Linked DNA regions of Homo sapiens. The protein of the gene in region 1 interacts with the protein of each later gene in a pairwise test. Each region holds a gene or a part of one and is shown in the gene's direction. Other genes may lie near its edges.

What was found.
Region 2: the proteins of KDR (region 1) and STYX interact in a two-hybrid assay, tested with the Homo sapiens proteins (one study listed by BioGRID and IntAct).
Region 3: the proteins of KDR (region 1) and ILKAP interact in a two-hybrid assay, tested with the Homo sapiens proteins (one study listed by BioGRID and IntAct).

What each region holds. Positions count from the first base shown.
Region 1 is NC_000004.12:55,101,596-55,105,095, reverse strand, and holds part of KDR (vascular endothelial growth factor receptor 2 precursor), read left to right. Parts: intron 1-111; coding exon 112-453; intron 454-2,587; coding exon 2,588-2,734; intron 2,735-3,067; coding exon 3,068-3,199; intron 3,200-3,500. UniProt on the Homo sapiens protein: Tyrosine-protein kinase that acts as a cell-surface receptor for VEGFA, VEGFC and VEGFD. Plays an essential role in the regulation of angiogenesis, vascular development, vascular permeability, and embryonic hematopoiesis.
Region 2 is NC_000014.9:52,757,666-52,761,165, forward strand, and holds part of STYX (serine/threonine/tyrosine-interacting protein), read left to right. Parts: intron 1-77; coding exon 78-117; intron 118-208; coding exon 209-259; intron 260-2,016; coding exon 2,017-2,089; intron 2,090-3,500. UniProt on the Homo sapiens protein: Catalytically inactive phosphatase. Acts as a nuclear anchor for MAPK1/MAPK3 (ERK1/ERK2). Modulates cell-fate decisions and cell migration by spatiotemporal regulation of MAPK1/MAPK3 (ERK1/ERK2).
Region 3 is NC_000002.12:238,183,196-238,186,695, reverse strand, and holds part of ILKAP (integrin-linked kinase-associated serine/threonine phosphatase 2C), read left to right. Parts: intron 1-1,408; coding exon 1,409-1,515; intron 1,516-2,582; coding exon 2,583-2,676; intron 2,677-2,955; coding exon 2,956-3,043; intron 3,044-3,500. UniProt on the Homo sapiens protein: Protein phosphatase that may play a role in regulation of cell cycle progression via dephosphorylation of its substrates whose appropriate phosphorylation states might be crucial for cell proliferation.

The sequences.
Region 1 (3,500 bases):
GGATAGAGCTTCATTTCTTTTGGTACTTTGTAGTAGTCTGAAAGCAGCAAGATGATAGTGAGCTGTACCAAGTTAAATCACCATTCAATAACTATGGCCTCTTCATTTTAGGGGGTCCTGAAATTACTTTGCAACCTGACATGCAGCCCACTGAGCAGGAGAGCGTGTCTTTGTGGTGCACTGCAGACAGATCTACGTTTGAGAACCTCACATGGTACAAGCTTGGCCCACAGCCTCTGCCAATCCATGTGGGAGAGTTGCCCACACCTGTTTGCAAGAACTTGGATACTCTTTGGAAATTGAATGCCACCATGTTCTCTAATAGCACAAATGACATTTTGATCATGGAGCTTAAGAATGCATCCTTGCAGGACCAAGGAGACTATGTCTGCCTTGCTCAAGACAGGAAGACCAAGAAAAGACATTGCGTGGTCAGGCAGCTCACAGTCCTAGGTAGGGAGACAATTCTGGATCATTGTGCAGAGGCAGTTGGAATGCCTTAAATGTAGTGCAATTCAGGTGCTATGCAAAGATTACTGTCCTCTAGGAGATTATGTTGTAAACTGGTGCACACTTCTTCACCGAAAGTCCTTGAGGAAGAAAGAAGCTAATAATAATGAAATGATATATCGAAAGGAGAAAATAACAAAACCTGATGATGGAGTAATTCACTAGTATATGCAAGGGATATTAGCTTGAACCAGGGAAACTTCTGCCTTATCTTGGGCATCCATTTATTTAAATAGACAAATATTTGTGGAATGCCTGCTATGAGCTAGGAGAGTGTCAGAAATTCACAGTGGTAAACATGAAGGAAAGGAGGAGAACATAGGCAACCACTGGGAAGTCACAGCACAGTGAGGTCTCTGTGTCCATGAGAACAGGAATTGTTCTCTGTTTTGCTCCCTGCTATAGCTCTAGTCATAGAGCATAGCAGCATATACTAACTGCTCAATAAGGCACCTGCTGCATGAAGAGTGGGATGATGGGCTGCGTTTAAGACCTAGAAGACTCCATGGGAAGGAAGCTACATTCACTGTCTGTACCTCTGGGTCATCCCACATGATCCAGCGTAGCCCAAGGTCAATGGGACGATCACTTCAGTGAGCAGATAGCTCTGTAAATTCCTCCATAGAGGCACTGTCTACCCCTTGTCTAACCTCATGCCTTGTGCAAAAGCTGGGCAGCCATGGCTTTGTCTGTGGGAAAATCAGGCAAATTTGGGGAGCGTCTCTTTGTGCCACTTCTCTCCATTTTCTCCTCTTGTGGTGTCCCTTTCCAATTCCTAGGATATATGTGCCCTCTGTTTTTTTTTTACTGTTAGGAAGGAAATTGCCCAAGTAAATTCATCTATACCACAGTTTTAGAGGGTAACGTCTTCATCAGAGGCCTTGGCGTATTTGAAGAGGCACCTTCTGACAGACACTAGCATAAAGTTCGCTAGTTTTAAGACTCAGGTGTCATAATAAGAGATACTTTGGGGTCAAGTCATCCCCAGCATCCTTCAAGTCACACCACATAGATCACATGGATTTTCTGTTGGCTTGTCTGGCTTCAAGGTTATGGCAGAATTGAGAAAGAGATGTGAAGTAGGCTCCTGGCCTAGCTGTGCCCAGAAAATATGTGCTCGCAGTTAGCTGCTTTGCTTCCCTAAGGACTCCTAACTTGTTTTCCTAAAACCTATTCTTAGAAATAGGCTAGAATCCAGTACATTTGCTTAGACTTCAATGTAGTACGCTGTTGAGGTAATCTCATTTTGCTAAGTGTTGACGTGGATTTTTTCAGCATGATTCCTTTTGATGTTCAGTTGGTTGGGACAAGATATTTCCACAGCACTTTGATGATCTGAAGAAAGAATAAATCTAAAGTGTTCTTGTACACTTAAACAAATACTCATGGGCTTCATTTTCTTTAAATCCAAGACTTCCCTTAGGGTATTGTTGTTTTGTTTGTGTTTTAGTGGAAATAGCACTGAACTGGTCTTTTAGCCTCACCAGATTCTGTAAACAGTTCAACTGTTTACTTAGTTGCAGGGACATGGACAAGTGGTTTAATGTCGCTGAACATCATTTATTTCATCTGTGAGATAACGCTAACAGTCCTATTCTGCTCATTACATAAGATCACTAGTGAGGAACACAAATTGTGTAAACAAGTTTTATAAGAATTGCCAAATAAATGTAAGGCATTATTGGTTGAATGATACTAAAATTTGGCACTTCCAAGAGAAATTTGAAGGGATTCTAGGGTATTATTGACTAGAATCTTCATGGGAGGGAAGTTTTCACCTGGGGAGGCTGTGTCTAATTAGAGGAAAAATCCATAAAGGTGACCCTGAACCTTTCTTTTGTGATGGGATTACCAGCTAGTATCACTAATATGAATGTTAAAAGCCATTAATCTGTTTGCAGTGTCCTGACTGACTTGTTTCATTTAACTTTACCCAGTGACCAGTGTATTTTCCCAGAAGTTAATATATCAACAAGTTCCTTTTTACTAAATTTAAACTGTTTAAAAGTTTGCTGATACCAGAACCATTTCAAAAGTTATAATTCCATGTTCTGTGATTTTCTTTTTGTGTGTCTAGAGCGTGTGGCACCCACGATCACAGGAAACCTGGAGAATCAGACGACAAGTATTGGGGAAAGCATCGAAGTCTCATGCACGGCATCTGGGAATCCCCCTCCACAGATCATGTGGTTTAAAGATAATGAGACCCTTGTAGAAGACTCAGGTAAATAGAATTTGGCTATCACTCTTGGGTTGCAGAACTTTCCCAGGGATGTTATCTAAAAAGCCATATTATTTCTTGATGTAATGTAGAAAAAAAGCAGTATTGGTGTCCATGACCTGGCTCATTTCACAGACTTAGAATTGGAGTATGGGGCCCTGTTGAATTTTCATGAAAGCCATATAGGAGATTAGTCAGCAGTAGATCCCATGTGACTCTACAGAGTTAGATAATAGAACAAGATGAAGGGCAGCATTTATATTTTCTAAATTTCCCTGAAAAACTTCACAGACTACATCATCATAAATGAGAATGATCGTTTTCTTCCTCTGTTAGGCATTGTATTGAAGGATGGGAACCGGAACCTCACTATCCGCAGAGTGAGGAAGGAGGACGAAGGCCTCTACACCTGCCAGGCATGCAGTGTTCTTGGCTGTGCAAAAGTGGAGGCATTTTTCATAATAGAAGGTCAGTGGGATAAAAAAAAATGTGGTACATATACACCATGGAATGCTATGCAGCCGTAAAAAGGAATCTGATCATGTCCTTTGCAGCTGCATGGATGGAGCTGGAAGCCATTATCCTCAGCAAACTAACACAGGAACAGAAAACCAAACGCCACACATTCTCACTTATAAGTGGGAGCTGAACAATGTGAACACATAGACACAGGGAAGGGAACAACACACACTGGGGCCTACTGTGGGTTGGGGAGAAGGAGAGCATCAGGAAAAATAGCTAATGCATGCTGGGCTTAATACCTAGGAGA
Region 2 (3,500 bases), on another chromosome or scaffold:
CTTTACTGTGGTTTCAATGTAGTTCAGCTACTGACTCAGGTGTTTTTCTATTAGAATAATGAATTCATGTTTTTCAGGAAAAGTTCTTGTGCATGGAAATGCAGGGATCTCCAGAAGGTATGAAGTTAGAAATAATCTTTCTTTCTATAACATTTAATTAATGGGCTGTATTTTCTGGTTGTTTTTAAAATTATTTTCCCCTCTTCAGTGCAGCCTTTGTTATTGCATACATTATGGAAACATTTGGAATGAAGTACAGGTAAGAAAATACCCTAAAACCTAGCCACAGTTTAAATTCTCATTAAAATGAAACTTAATGGGAATAGTTTGGAAGTTTGAAGTTCTTATTCCCCTGATTATTTTTCATGTAGTCATGTTTGATTAGGCAGGCCCTTATTCCATGATTAGTCTTAACCTAATTTATCTACTTGTATAGATATGCATAGGCTAATATGGAAATCCTATGGAAAACTACTTACCTACCACAAGGGAATTGGTTGGTATGAGTATAAAAACTCGTGACCACAAATGTTAGTGCTTGCCTTATTTAAAGGGCTAATTTATCATGTTCTCCTTTAACAATAGTTGGATGAAAAATTACCTAGGAATTGTTTGCAGCATCTATTTACAATTCAGAGTAGTCTTTCTTATCAAAAATCATCTTTTCCAAGCATTCTGTATAGATTTTTTAAAAGATAGGGGGTGGTAATGAGCTTCTTGCCCCAAGACAAAGCAAAAGCCTGGCCAGTGTACAGTATTTCCTTTCTCAGCTTTTCTTGTTCTACAAATTAGAAATCTTATAGTAATCATTGACACATCTTTCTATTTCAGTCCCCTTTTATATCTAAATTAGAATGGATAACTTTGCTTAAAAATATCTATTCTTAAAGGAATATTATTTGAATACAAATATTTATTTATTTATTTTTGAGACGGCGTCTTGCTCTATTGGCAGGCTGGAGTGCAGTGGTGCGATCTCAGCTCACTGCAACCCCCGCCTCCCAGATTCAAGCAATTCTCCTGCCTCAGCCTCCCTAGTAGCTGAGACTACAGGTGCACACCACCACGCCTGGCTAATTTTTGTATTTTTATTAGAGATGGGGTTTCACCATGTTGGCCAGGATGGTCTCGATTTCTTGACCTTGTGATCCACCTGCCTCGGCCTCCCAAGGTGCTGGTATTACAGGGGTGAGCCACTGCACCCAGCCAGAATACAAATATTTAATTGAAAAAAGATTAAACATGTATTGATGGACTTTATGTTTTATATATTGTTTTTATTATTTCGAATTTTGTCAGACCATTAATGTTGGAAATAACTTGTATTTATTGGGTCTCTGCTATGAGCTCAGTACTATTATAGGCACTTTAAGCCTCATAACAAAAGTAAATAAACCTCTTTAACCAGTGATAGTATTTTGAGCTTGAACTTGTACTATATGCACAAAATGCTTACATTTTATATATTTATTTTAGAGACAGGGTCTTCCTTTGTTTCTCAGGCTGGAGTGTAGTGGCACAATCATAGCTCACTGTAGTCTCAGACTTGAGGACTCAAGTAATCCTCCCACCTCAGCCTCTCAAGAAGCTGGGACTATACCACATCACTGTGCCTGGCTAATTTTTAAGTTTTTTGTAGAGATGGGGTCTTACTACATTGCCCAGGCTGGTCTCAAAGTCCTGGCTTCAAGCAGTCCTCCTGTGTTGGCCTCTCAAAGGATTGGGGTTACAGGCAAGAGCCACTGCACCTGGCCACTTTACACTTACCTCCTATTCATAGTAGTTCCCCAAGGTAGGTGTTATTAGACTCTTCATTTTACCAATGGACAAAATAGAGCTTAGAGAAGTTGAGCAAGCTGCCGTAAGCATATAGCTGGTGAGAAAAGGAATTGTGATATTTAATCTCATCATGCTTTTTCCATTACAACTCATTACCCCTCTCTATTGCTAAGTTGTATGATTATGATTAATTCATTAAATAATGCTATCACATTAACACTCTTTTTCTGTTTTCAGAGATGCTTTTGCTTATGTTCAAGAAAGAAGATTTTGTATTAATCCTAATGCTGGATTTGTCCATCAACTTCAGGTAACTTTTCTTCCTCTTTAAGGCAATCAGAAGTAAGATATAAAATCTTTTATACATGTAATTTAGGTGTACAATTTACTTTGTGAATACTTAAAATTGCCATAATCTGACTACTTTGATGCTTTATTCAAGTTTATATCTCTATTTAGAAGTATTTTCTTGGCTGGGTGTGGTGGCTTATACCTATAATCACAGCACTTTGGGAGAACAAGGCATTTGGATTGCTTGAGGCCAGAAGTATGAGATCAGCCTGAGCAACAAAGTGAGACCCAATCTCTAAAAAATAAAAAATTAAAAAAAAATTAGCCAGTCATGGTGGTGCATGGCTGTGGTCCCAGCTACTCAGGAGGCTGAGATGGGAGGATTGCTTGAGCCCAGGAGTTTGAGGCTACAGTGAACAGTGTGCCTTTGCACTCCAGCCTGGCCCACAGAGTGAGACCCCATCCCTAAAAAATTAAAAAAACTTTTTTTTCTTAAAGGCTGGCATTACCAAGAAAAAAGGGTTAAAGACACATTATCAAATCTAAAGTAAAATAATTGCTGTTAGAAATGTCTGATTTTTTTTTGTTGTTCATTTTGATCACACAGAGCATAAGACAGTTTTGATTCTAAGTATACTAACTATAACAGCTTTTTCTATTCTATGTTTATCTTTTCCATGTTGTTTCATATTTTGTTGATGCCTGGCAGATGCACTGACAAAGATGATAAGTCTATGAATTAACCTAATTAGACCACGTTGCTCAGTTTATTCCAAGAGGCAAAATCATAGGCTGCAGAATGTGCTCTGGCTAATTACATCCAATTATGTAGGAATAAAGCTCATGTTTCAACATCAAGAATATTTATTACAAAATATATTGTTATAGTTACCAAGGTTTAAATTTTATTTTAATATTTAATTTACTTTTAATTTTTACTACATTCAAAAGAGAAACAGTGTCATCTGTGTTCAGCCTGTTCATGTAAAATGTTTGTCTTCTAACTTTGTAAGTTTCTTTGCCTTTTACCATGTTGTAGAAAACATTGTTTTTTTTCATTTTTTTTAAACTATTTTTTAAGCTTTTCTTTTTTTTGTGGATACATAGTAGGTTAGGTATTTCGATACAGGCATGCAATGTGTAATAATCACATCATGGAAAAATAGAGTATCCATCCCCTCAATCATTTATCCTTTGTGTTACAAACAATCCAATAATGCTCTTACTTGTTTTCAAATGTGTAAAAACATTCTTTTTTAAAATTAATTTTTGTATTTGAAAGAATAGTATATACATATGTTTAAGAAGATTGGCCTGGCTCAGTGGCTCACACCTGTAATCCCAGCACTTAGGGAGGCCGAGGTGAGTGGAACACCTGAGGTCAGGAGTTCGAGACCAGCCTGGCCAACATGGGGAAACCCCATCTCTAC
Region 3 (3,500 bases), on another chromosome or scaffold:
TATTTGATGTCTTTTATTCCATATATGTGGGTTTTCTGGCAAAATTTGAAAGGGGAATGGGAATAAGAGTAGTAAGATAGGTTTTAAAAATGAGATATTTAAAATTTATTTGAGTAACAATTCTGTAATATCCTCCCTGCTCTTATGCAGTCATGTGCTGAATAACAACATCAAGTCAGTGATGGACTGCATATATGACGGTGCTCCCATAAGATTACAAATTTTGTAGAGATGGGGGTCTCGCTATGTTGCCCAGGCTGGTCTTGAACTCCTGGCCTCAAGTGATCCTCCTGCCTTGGCCACCTCCCGAAGTGTTGGGATTAACAGGCGTGAGCTGTCGTGTTCAGCCATAATACCATGTTTACTGTACCTTTTCTATGTTTAGGTATGTTTAAATACACAAATACTACCAGTGTGTTACAACTGCCTATGGTATTTAGTGCAGTAACATGCTGTGCAGTTTAGCCTAGGAGCAATAGGCTCTACCATGTATGTAGCTTAGGTGTGTAGTAAGCTGCGCCGTGTTAGTTTCTGTAAATATGTTCTATGATGTTCACACAACAAAGTCACCTAACAATGCATTTCTGTTAAGTGATGCATGACTGTATTTTTTACTGTTTTCGATAAATAACTTGATCTGTTTGTTAATGTTTAAAACCAAATCCGATTTAAATAGGAACGGAGTTCTGAATTTTAGTTTTGTTGTCAGTGAAAAATCAGAATTAACAGATCTTGATCTTTGAAGCAAATGTGAGTTTTAAACATTTAATGTAAAATACTGGGAAAAGTGTTACATCTCTTTTAGAATATTAGACCTTTAGCAGGTCTTGCAGTCTTCACCAGAAACACTCCCACACCTACACACACACAGTGTTTTTGTTTTTTTTTTTTTTAGACAGAATCTCGCTCTGTCACCCCGGCTGAAGTGCAGTGGTGCGATCTCAGTTCACTGCAAGCTCCGCCTCCTGGGTTCACGCCATTCTCCTGCCTCAGCCTCCCGAGTAGCTGGGACTGTAGGTGCCTGCCACCACGCCCGGCTAATTTTTTTGTATTGTTAGTAGAGATGGGGTTTCACCGTGTTAGCCAGGATGGTCTTGATCTCCTGATCTCGTGATCCGCCTGCCTCGGCCTCCCAAAGCGCTGGGATTACAGGCATGAGCCACCACACCTGGCCCACACACAAGTATTTTTTTTTTAAAAAAAGATAAAATGCTGTGAAAGTTACTTAAATATTTGTCTCAGTTAAAGCCTTTTTTTTCCCATTTGTAACAGTGTGACTGGTGTCTTAACCAGTGTGACTTCCTCTGACTTATTAATGTTCACTCTTTGAGACGAAATTTAAAAGCTTTAATGGAAAAGTGTGGTTTTTGCTGTGAGAATTTGATTAACTCTCAATTCGTTCTTTCAGTACTCGGGTTTCATATTTTGCTGTTTTTGATGGACATGGAGGAATTCGAGCCTCAAAATTTGCTGCACAGAATTTGCATCAAAACTTAATCAGAAAATTTCCTAAAGGTGAGACTGAGAACTAAATCAGTTGATACTCAAATTGGTTATTGCTGTTTGGTTGGCTGTGTGAAGCAGTCAGATGTGTTATTTTGGCTTTAGCAGAGAATCATTGATGAGTCTTAAAAGAGTGGTGCTGAGGAGTGGATGCCAAGGCTTCCAGGAGTAGCGGCCATGCAGGTGTGACTTAGAATGGCACTTCTCATGATTCTAAGTGATAGGCACCTTTTGTCAATCGTCTTTGGGTTCAGTTAGTGTCTTGCCTTTACTGGAAAACTAGTAAACCAACTTCAAATAGCACTGTGTTATATGTGAGGAAAGAAACAGAGATTGTTCTGGCTGGGCACGGTGGCTCACACAGCACTTTGGGAGGCCAAGGCCAGAAGATCACTCAAGCCCAGGAGTTTGAGACCAGCCTGGCAACATAGGGAGACTCTATCTCTATAAAAAAAAAAAACAAACCTAACTGGACATGGTGGTATGTGCCTGTGGTCCCAGCTGCTCAGGAGGCTGTGGTGGGAGGATTTTCTGAGCCCCAGGAGGTTCAGGCTGCAGTGAACCACAGTTGCACCATTGCACTGCAGCCTGGGTGACAGAGTGAGACCCAGTCTCAGAAAAAAAAATTTAAAAAAGGAAAGAAATAGGGATTGTTCTTAATCATGCTTGAAAATCAATTGATGTGCAGAAATTACAAAAACAAAATGGCCAGCCCTGGTGACCCACGCCTGTAATCCCAGCATTTGGGAGGCCGAGGCAGGTGGATCACGAGGTCAGGAGTTCGAGACCAGCCTGGCCAATGTGGTGAAACCCTGTCTCTACTAAAAACACAAAAATTAGCCTGGCATGGTTGCGCGCGCCTGTATTCCCAGCTACTCAGGAGGCTAAGGCAGAAGAATCTCTTGAACCTGGGAGGCGGAGGTTGCAGTGAGCTGAGATCGCGCCACTGCATTCCAGCCTGGTGACAGAACGAGACTCCGTCTCAAAAAAATAAAACAAAAAACAAACCAAAATGACAGTGGGAGGAGGATAATCTTCCCTCCTTGAGAGATTGTTTTCTTTTGGCCCTTCTGTAATAGGAGATGTAATCAGTGTAGAGAAAACCGTGAAGAGATGCCTTTTGGACACTTTCAAGCATACTGATGAAGAGTTCCTTAAACAAGCTTCCAGCCAGTAAGTATAACTTGATGATGAAGTTTGAGTGGACTGTGTGTGGTGTTTTCCTAAATGCATTTCAGTCTTCTGATGTGGTTTAACACTATTGCTCACTGTCTGAAAAGTGCGTAGCACTCAGCTTTTATAACCGTTAGCTAAATCTAAAACAGAAAAAAAGCAAGTATCAAGGAAATGGTTCATTTTGAAATATAAGATACTTCCCATTGAGCTCTGGAAATTAGTCTCAAAGTGCTGGGCTATTGGTGGTGACTGTGTTTCTGATGTGTTTCCCCCCAGGAAGCCTGCCTGGAAAGATGGGTCCACTGCCACGTGTGTTCTGGCTGTAGACAACATTCTTTATATTGCCAACCTCGGAGATAGTCGGGTATGTGGCTCTGGAGCCACCCACTTAGATGACAATACGTTTTATGGGGAAAAGACTTTAGCACGTACTTGTTGAATAAGATTAAAGTGATGGTGTCTGGTTGAAACCTTTCTTCTGGGGTTGCTGCAGAGTGTTCTGCTGCAGTTTAACTTCTGGGTAAGGGAACAGCAACTCAGCTAGAGGCTGTTTGTTCTCTGGGGAACTTACGCCCTATGATAGACTTGTGCTTTAAAACCCAGATCCCGTCTTTTTTGTTTCTTTTTTCCTCCCGTGGTTTGTGTGTGTGATGCTGTGGATCAGAATGTAATCAGTATGCAAGTAGCCTAAATCTTCTTTTATTTCCTTTCTCTGACCTTAGACAGTAATGAATGAAAAGCTTTAACCCCTGCCTATCAAAGTTACTGTGATTTCAGAGTAACTTGAGAGCTGTAGCTAGAAAATACCAGATGAGGTGCCA